2 linked regions of the Homo sapiens genome follow. The protein of the gene in region 1 interacts with the protein of each later gene in a pairwise test. Each region holds a gene or a part of one and is shown on either strand. Other genes may lie near its edges.

Region 1 (3,827 bases):
AAATCAAAACCACAATGAGATAGCATCTCACACCAGTTAGAATGGCAATCATTAGAAAGTCGGGGAACAACAGATGCTGATGAGGATGTGGAGAAATAGGAATGCTTTTACACTGTTGGGAGTGTAAATTAGTTCAACCATGTGGAAGACAGTGTGGCAATTCCTGAAGGATCTAGAACTAGAAATAACATTTGACCCAGCAGTCCCATTACTGGGTATATACTCAGTTTTGTAAATCATTCTACTATAAAGACACATGCACACGTATGTTTATTGCAGCACAATTCACAATAGCAATGACTTGGAACCAACCCAAATGTCCATCAATGATAGACTGGATAAAGAAAATGTGGCACATATACACCATGGAATACTATACAGCCATAGGAAAGAATGAGTTCCTGTCCTTTGCAGGGACATGGATGAAGCTGGAAACCATCATTCTCAGCAAACTAACAACAGGAACAGAAAACCAAACATCTCATGTTCTCACTCATAAGTGGGAGTTGAGCAATGAGAACATGTGGGCACGGGGGGGGAACATCACACACTGGGGCCTCCTGGGGGTTGTGGGGCAAGGTGGGGGATAGCATTAGGAGAAATACCTAATGTAGATGATGGGTTGATGAGTGCAGCAAACCACCATGTCCATGTCACATGTATGCCCATGTAACAAACCTGCACGTTCTGCACATGTATCCCAGAATTTAAAGTATAATAAAAATCAAAAATAATCAAAAAAATAAAACTTCTGGATTCTTTTTCCAAATTATTATTTTTACTTTGTCACATACTGTCTGGTGCAAATTTTGTCTGATGAAAAATTGGTACATAATTTAACCAAAAATAGGCTGTATATCATGGCTTGCAACCTGGAGACCTCTGGTAGATTTCTTTAGTGCATCCCAGCCAAGTGTCCTTCAGAAATTCTGTTGTTGCCAGGCTCTCTTCATTGCCCTCAAAGAGCTCTACATAAGCAGTGGTTATAAAGAGCTTTGCATGATATCTGGAGTTTCTCTAGTAATGGTCTCATGTGCCTTTACCTGTGATCCCAAAGTTAACCTTGGCTATCTATAATTTGTGATGGCAGCTATTCTTTGGGTAAACAAATTAGCTATCTCAGGGTCCATAATTTGTGTAGAAATCCTGTGCATTACATGAACTTTGAAATAGCCTAGGAATAGAGAAATTCAGTTTCTGGTTTTAGCTAATGTCTTGAGAGCTTCTTTGCTGCTTCTGTAACCTAGATAGACTTTGCTGTCACATCATGTTCCAAGCATTTGTTGCCATTCAGATGCAGAATGCTTTGAAGTCATCATTTGTCATTCATTCTTCCAGGAACACCTAGAATTCTTAAATAGTTTTTTGGTTCTTTACTTTCCACTTTATCCAGGTAATGGTTGAGATAAGGCACTTTATCCCAGAGTGTTTCTGGTAAAATGTTTCCATGTCAGTTTCTCTGAGTAGTCTTTCATCCATCCTGCTGTTGTTACTGCCTTTTTCCATTAAGGAGCCTGTGAATCCTCAAACAGCCTGAGAGAATGGGCCCTGGATTTTAGGAACTAGGCCATGCCTGGTTGATACCTTTCTACTAGGAAGTCCAGAGTGTTCTTTATTTAAATGTTTGTTATTTCAGTCAAACTGGATTGAAGGATAAAGTGAAACTAAGAATGAAGGAGGTACTCATTGATTTATCCAGTTACAAGTCAGTCTAGGAGCAAAGTTATAACAGTATCTCTTATTTTATTCGTCATTTGCTACCCTTTTTTTAAAGATAGAGGGTCTTGCTTTGTCACCCAGGCTAGAAGGCAGTGGTGCAGTCGTAGCATACTGTAAGTTCACACTCCTGGGCTCAAGTGATTCTCCTGCCTCAGCCTCACAAAGTGCTGGGATCATAGGCCAGACCCACTGTGCCTGGCCCTGCTTTCTTAGAAAAAAAGAACTTTATAATATGAATTTGTTGATAACTCCTGTTAGCTTTTGGCACTGTTTATATTCAAAATAGTTCAGTGAGACTAGTTACAGGGTTATGCCTACCCAGAAACATGCTTTCATATACCTTGATTATGTGTGCTTTTTTAAAAAAAATTTTTTTATATTAAAAACATTTTTAAAATAAAAATTTTAAAAATTTTAAAAAATATTTAAAAATTAAAAAAATTTTTTAAAATATTTTATTTCTTTATATACATACATAAAATCTAGAATAATATGACTTAAAATTTGTGATCTGTGAATTTCATCTGATATTGATTACATATTATTTGTTACATATACTCCCTCTATTTTTTTTTTAAATCTCAAACATTGCAAAACAAACAGTGTTCACATGGTGTTTTAAGATAAATATCAGCCCCTGTGATATTTGCAACATTACAGCATGGTAACTACATTACTGAAACTTAGAAAGCTTAATATAAAAAATTGCAAAACAAAAGGAAAAAATAAACTTTGGACAGGTATATTAGAGATAGTAATTATTGAATTTTGAGGTAAAGAAAGAAACAATCACTTTTATTTCACATTCAAGTATATATTCTAAAGAATATTTAATGTATTTGCTTGTTTCTGTGGCAGAGAAAAGCAGCAAATCCATTAGTATATATGTTAAGTAAATGTTTGTAGAAGATCTGTATAGATGCTAAACGCAGCGTATACATAACATGAACAAGACATAAAGCAAAAGTCTGCCCTCTAGGAGCCTCCAGTCTTGTCAGACTAGAGGAGATATTCAGGTAAACACTGGCAGTGGTATATGCTGATTCGAGTAATTAGGAGTTCGTGGGAACAGAGGGTAAGAAAAACCCCTTTATAGTTAGAGATGTAGATGGATCAAGAGAAACTTACCTAAAGAGTCCTAATTCTTGAAGCACAATTAGGAATTAAACAGATTGGCTAGGCACAGGTAGCATTCAATGTGGAGGATAAACCATGTTTAAAAGAAAAGAGCTATAAGGGAACATGTATCCTTAGAGACCTTACTTACAGTCAGAAAAATGTACCTATATCTGTAGAAAACCACATAGTGTGTGGAACTAGAATCACCTAGGAGCTTTCAAAAAATACTGCCACTTACCAGAGATTCTGACGAGTGAGGAGTGGCCAGGGCATTCACGGTTTAAAAGTCCTCCGGATGATTTTAATGGACACCTGGTTCATTGTGTGAAAACCACTTTATCACAACCACTTGGAATCAGACATACCTGTGGTCACATCCTAGGCCTTTGATTCACTCATTTGTGTCTATAGACACATAATCTTTGTGATCCTTTTTCCTTATCTGCAAAAATGGGGCTAATACCCACTTCAGAAGGCTGCAATTCACTCATTCATTCATTCACTCAAGTACTAATTCAACAGGTATTTATTGAGCGCCTACTGTGTGCCAGGCATTGTTCCAGGCTCTGGAGATTTAGTAGGGAACTAAACAGATCTCTTCTGATCTGTACCCCTCAAAAAACACAAAAGAAAAGAAAATTACCAAGGGAATTTATACTCTACTGTTGTAAGGATTAAATACAATAAATAGCACCGATAAAGCACTCAGCATGATGCTGACACAAAATAAATAAGGAATTACTACTAATAATCATGTTTGCATAGTTAACTGGGGTCATAATATGAAATTAACACTTTGATTTATAATGAAGTCTGATTACCTTAATGGAATCAATGTCTGATTTAAAACAAACAAGTGATTAACCCATAAACAGCACCAGAATTAGTAAGTTTGTACTTTGTTTTTCTCTGATGAGGATGTTCATTGGCAAAAGGCAATTATAAACCAAACTTTCTTATGTCTTTCAGGAACAGAGATACTTACAAAT
Region 2 (3,648 bases), on another chromosome or scaffold:
ACATAGAATAAGTCGAAGGAAAAGGGGAGAGTGGGGCTGGTCAGGGAATCCAGAACAATAGCTTCATTGGGAAGGAACAGCTTCCTTAGCCTTGAGCATCAGGAGTGGGGCCATGTCATCATGGGTGATATTGAGGCAACAGCCTGAAAGCAGTATTCAGGAGAAGAAAAATGGGCAGAAGACAGAGATGAGAAAGGCCATGGCTGTGGTTTGGGGGTTTGCGGTGGGCCCTGCTGGCAGGAGCCTTCTCTAGCCCATAGCTGCTGGTCTCCCTCCATGAATCTGGCTGGGACTGTCAGTTCACCTGAACTCAGCCCAGGCAGGAGGCTTTCTTTGTCCTAGATCATCTCGCTGCTGCTGGGGGTTCAGAGCTCACAGCAGTAGTGGGCTGTCAACCCATCCGTCCAGCCATCTAAACGTTCTTTAATACCTCCTGGGTGTCAAGCACCATGCCAGGCTCTGAAAGCAGCCCCTCTGGTGCCACCAAAGAGGTATTGAACATTCACTCCAAAGGCATGGCCCATTTTTGCCCTTTGAGAAATTTCCAGGTTGGGTTCAGGCAATGCCAGCAGTTTCTGCCCATGCTGAAAGCACAGGAGATTCTACTTGGCTGGTTTTTACAGAGCATCCAGTTAATTGGCCCATCACAGGGTTGGAGCCATGTTGAGGTGGGGATGGGTATTAAGTTATTAGACAACCGGGGTCTAAGCCTAAAGACCACAGGACCACATATACAGTAAGGATGTGAACACTAGAGTGCATTTGTTAAAATCACCAATTCTTTCACTTAGCCTCCCTCTTCTAAAAAAGGAGTGTTAGTATAGTCACAGACTCCGGAGAAGAGGATTTTTGTCTGTACCTGCTTGAATACCCCTATCACTATCACATGTGCGTGCACACATTTTTATCCTGTTCAAGTAGTGGTTAAAATCTGGTGCCCAGGCCTCCTTTTTAGCCATGAGCCATTGACTGTTTTGTATTCCTTAGATGATGATGACTCTATAGCTGATTTTCTCAATAGTGATGAGGAAGAAGACAGAGTTTCTTTGCAGAATTTAAAGAATTTAGGTAAGTCTGTGCTATGCTTGTCAATCGTTGAGATACATTTACTGTGTTGTAAGGATTGTGATTTTTTAAAAAGTTTTTAATTTCTTGAATAAGTATGGCATGTAGGGCTCTTACTATCTAGCCACATAATCTGTAAACATACAGGGTTTCACACCTCCCAGCCTGCCCACACCATTCCTTCTGCCTGGAATCCTGCTGGTCTTGTGGGTTGGCAAAATTCTGCTCCTCCTTCAAGCCTTGGTTCAAGTTTTCTTCACTCAGCTAAGCTTTTCTTGACCTTTTGTGTCTCTTTCAGAATTAGGCACTTTTTTGGTTTCCCATAGCAACTTGGACTTAATAGTAATAAATCACTGTTACATTTCATGGTAATTTGTCTCTCACATACCGATTTGTACAGCAGGGACCTGTATTCCCAGATCCCCAGTGCTCAGCTCACAGTCCAGCCCTTAACACAAACTGGTTATCACATGATTTGATTTAGGGGGAAACAGGTGTTGCCATTTTTGTAGCACTGCTTATTCAGTCCTTACAACATTCTGTTACATGTGCATGGGGTCTGTTAATTTCATTCTTCCCATTTCACAGAATCATGTTAAAAGGTTATGTTTTGCACTTAGTCTCATGGTAATGATTAGTTAGACTGAGTTTGGAGATGAGCTAGTAATAGGTGTGAAAAATTTTACAGACTGTGAAGTACCATGCAGGTATTATTGTTGGTTCCCTGCTACTGGTGCTGCTGCATGCCAAATGGCATGCTTAGACATCATTCAGATTATTTCGTATAGCCGTCTTCACCACTGGCAACTTTTATGGCTAGAAAGAAAGAAAACATGCCAGCAGCTTAATGCTACTATTTGCTTTGTGATTGTGCTGATAAAGCATTTTTTTCTTAGCTGAAGTGGCACGAAGTTACAATATTTACAAAGATACCAAGAACTGGTATCTGTTACTGCATTTAATGCGGAAATAGTTTGATATGCTGGTCTTACCTTTCATTTTATAGAGGTGGGGTCTCGCCATGTTGCACAGGCTGGTCTTGAACTCCTGAGCTCAAGCAATCTGCCCACCTTGACCTCCCCAGTTGCTGGTATTACAGGCATGAGCCACCACACCTTGCTGATAGTTTTATTACACTTGAAATAGCTCTTCACTTTTCAGCCATCTCCATGTGTTTCCACTTGAACTCAGACTGGCTTTTTTTCTTGTTAATTTTTAGGGGAATCTGCAACATTAAGAAGCTTATTGCTCAATCCACACCTCAGGCAGTTGATGGTCAACCTCGATCAGGGAGAAGACAAAGCAAAGCTCATGAGAGCTTACATGCAAGAGCCTTTGTTTGTGGAGTTTGCAGACTGCTGTTTAGGAATTGTGGAGCCATCCCAGAATGAGGAGTCTTAAGATGGATTATTGTGCTGCTTGCTCAAGCGTGTGCTTGACTCCTGGAACCTGCCTGCTCCCTCTCCCAGACCAGCTAGTTTGGGGCTGGGGAGCTCAGGCAAAAGAGGTTTCCAGGATGCAGATTAGGTCATGCAGGCCTTTACCGGCATTGATGTGGCTCATGTTTCAGGCAGACTTGGGGTCCTTAAGGTGGCAAGTCCTTTATGGAGAGAAAACTTGACATTCAGATGATTGTTTTTAAATGTTTTACTTTTGGTACAGTTGATAGACATCATAAACGATATCAAGCTTACACTTCATATGGAGTTAAACTTGGTCAGTGTTAATAAAATCAAAACGTGATTCTACTGTACATTGCATTATTCATAATTTAATTGTTTGAAATTACATTAAATAAATCAACTAATTAAATACTAAAGTTTTGTTCCTTTTTAAAGGAAATAACCACAAGATTTTTCCCAGCCCAAATTCCAGCGCCAATTTTAGGCCAACTTTGGCTGTTTTCTTCCAAAAGTGCTTATGTGGAATTGGGATCCCCAGTGTAGTGACAGACAGTCATGACTGCTGCTGAGTTTGATCTGTGAAGGTAGTGAAATGTGGCCCTGATGTTTCTTAACCCTGATTTGGTAACTACCAGCCCTGACACCATCAGTGCTTGATGTAGCCTGGAACCCCAGGCCCACTGACGCACTGGGCACGGGGCTCTGGGTCGAAGGCTGGAGCCGTCACTGTTGTTCATGTGCATTTGGAGCACTGTGGGAATAGTCTGGCAGCTGTGTGCTGATTAAATGTCTTTGGCAAGGCAGGGGGCAGGAAAAGGCCTTGTGGAAACAAAGGCACCAAGGATCACCCCAGCCCAGTGAAGGCAGAAGAGGTCACGTGGATCAGCCTGTGTCTTTCCAGCAGAATCTGATTAAAGCCTGTAATGCTGTAGGGTGAAGGTTCAGGGCAGATGTCAGCATACCGCAGTGGAGACTTTCTGCAGTGAAACTTTATCGATCCCTAGAGGGGAGAGAGAGATGCAGCTTTAGCACTAGTTCCTGGGAGTGCCAGGGCCTAACAACCCCACAGAGCAGACGCTAAAAATGCAAGAAGGTATGGACAAGTACTAGTATTGGGGGCCACAGCAGGATTAAAATAGCATTACATCCACTCAGTGTGAGACAGATGAGGAAACCCTAG

The links.
Region 2: the proteins of MBNL1 (region 1) and ZNHIT3 interact in a two-hybrid assay, tested with the Homo sapiens proteins (one large-scale study listed by BioGRID and IntAct).

What each region holds. Positions count from the first base shown.
Region 1 is NC_000003.12:152,425,634-152,429,460, forward strand, and holds part of MBNL1 (muscleblind-like protein 1), read left to right. Parts: intron 1-3,827. UniProt on the Homo sapiens protein: Mediates pre-mRNA alternative splicing regulation. Acts either as activator or repressor of splicing on specific pre-mRNA targets. Inhibits cardiac troponin-T (TNNT2) pre-mRNA exon inclusion but induces insulin receptor (IR) pre-mRNA exon inclusion in muscle.
Region 2 is NC_000017.11:36,492,939-36,496,586, forward strand, and holds the end of ZNHIT3 (zinc finger HIT domain-containing protein 3), read left to right. Parts: intron 1-987; coding exon 988-1,068; intron 1,069-2,284; coding exon 2,285-2,466; 3' UTR 2,467-2,884; downstream 2,885-3,648. Other genes in the region: MYO19 (unconventional myosin-XIX), read right to left, coding at 3,313-3,468.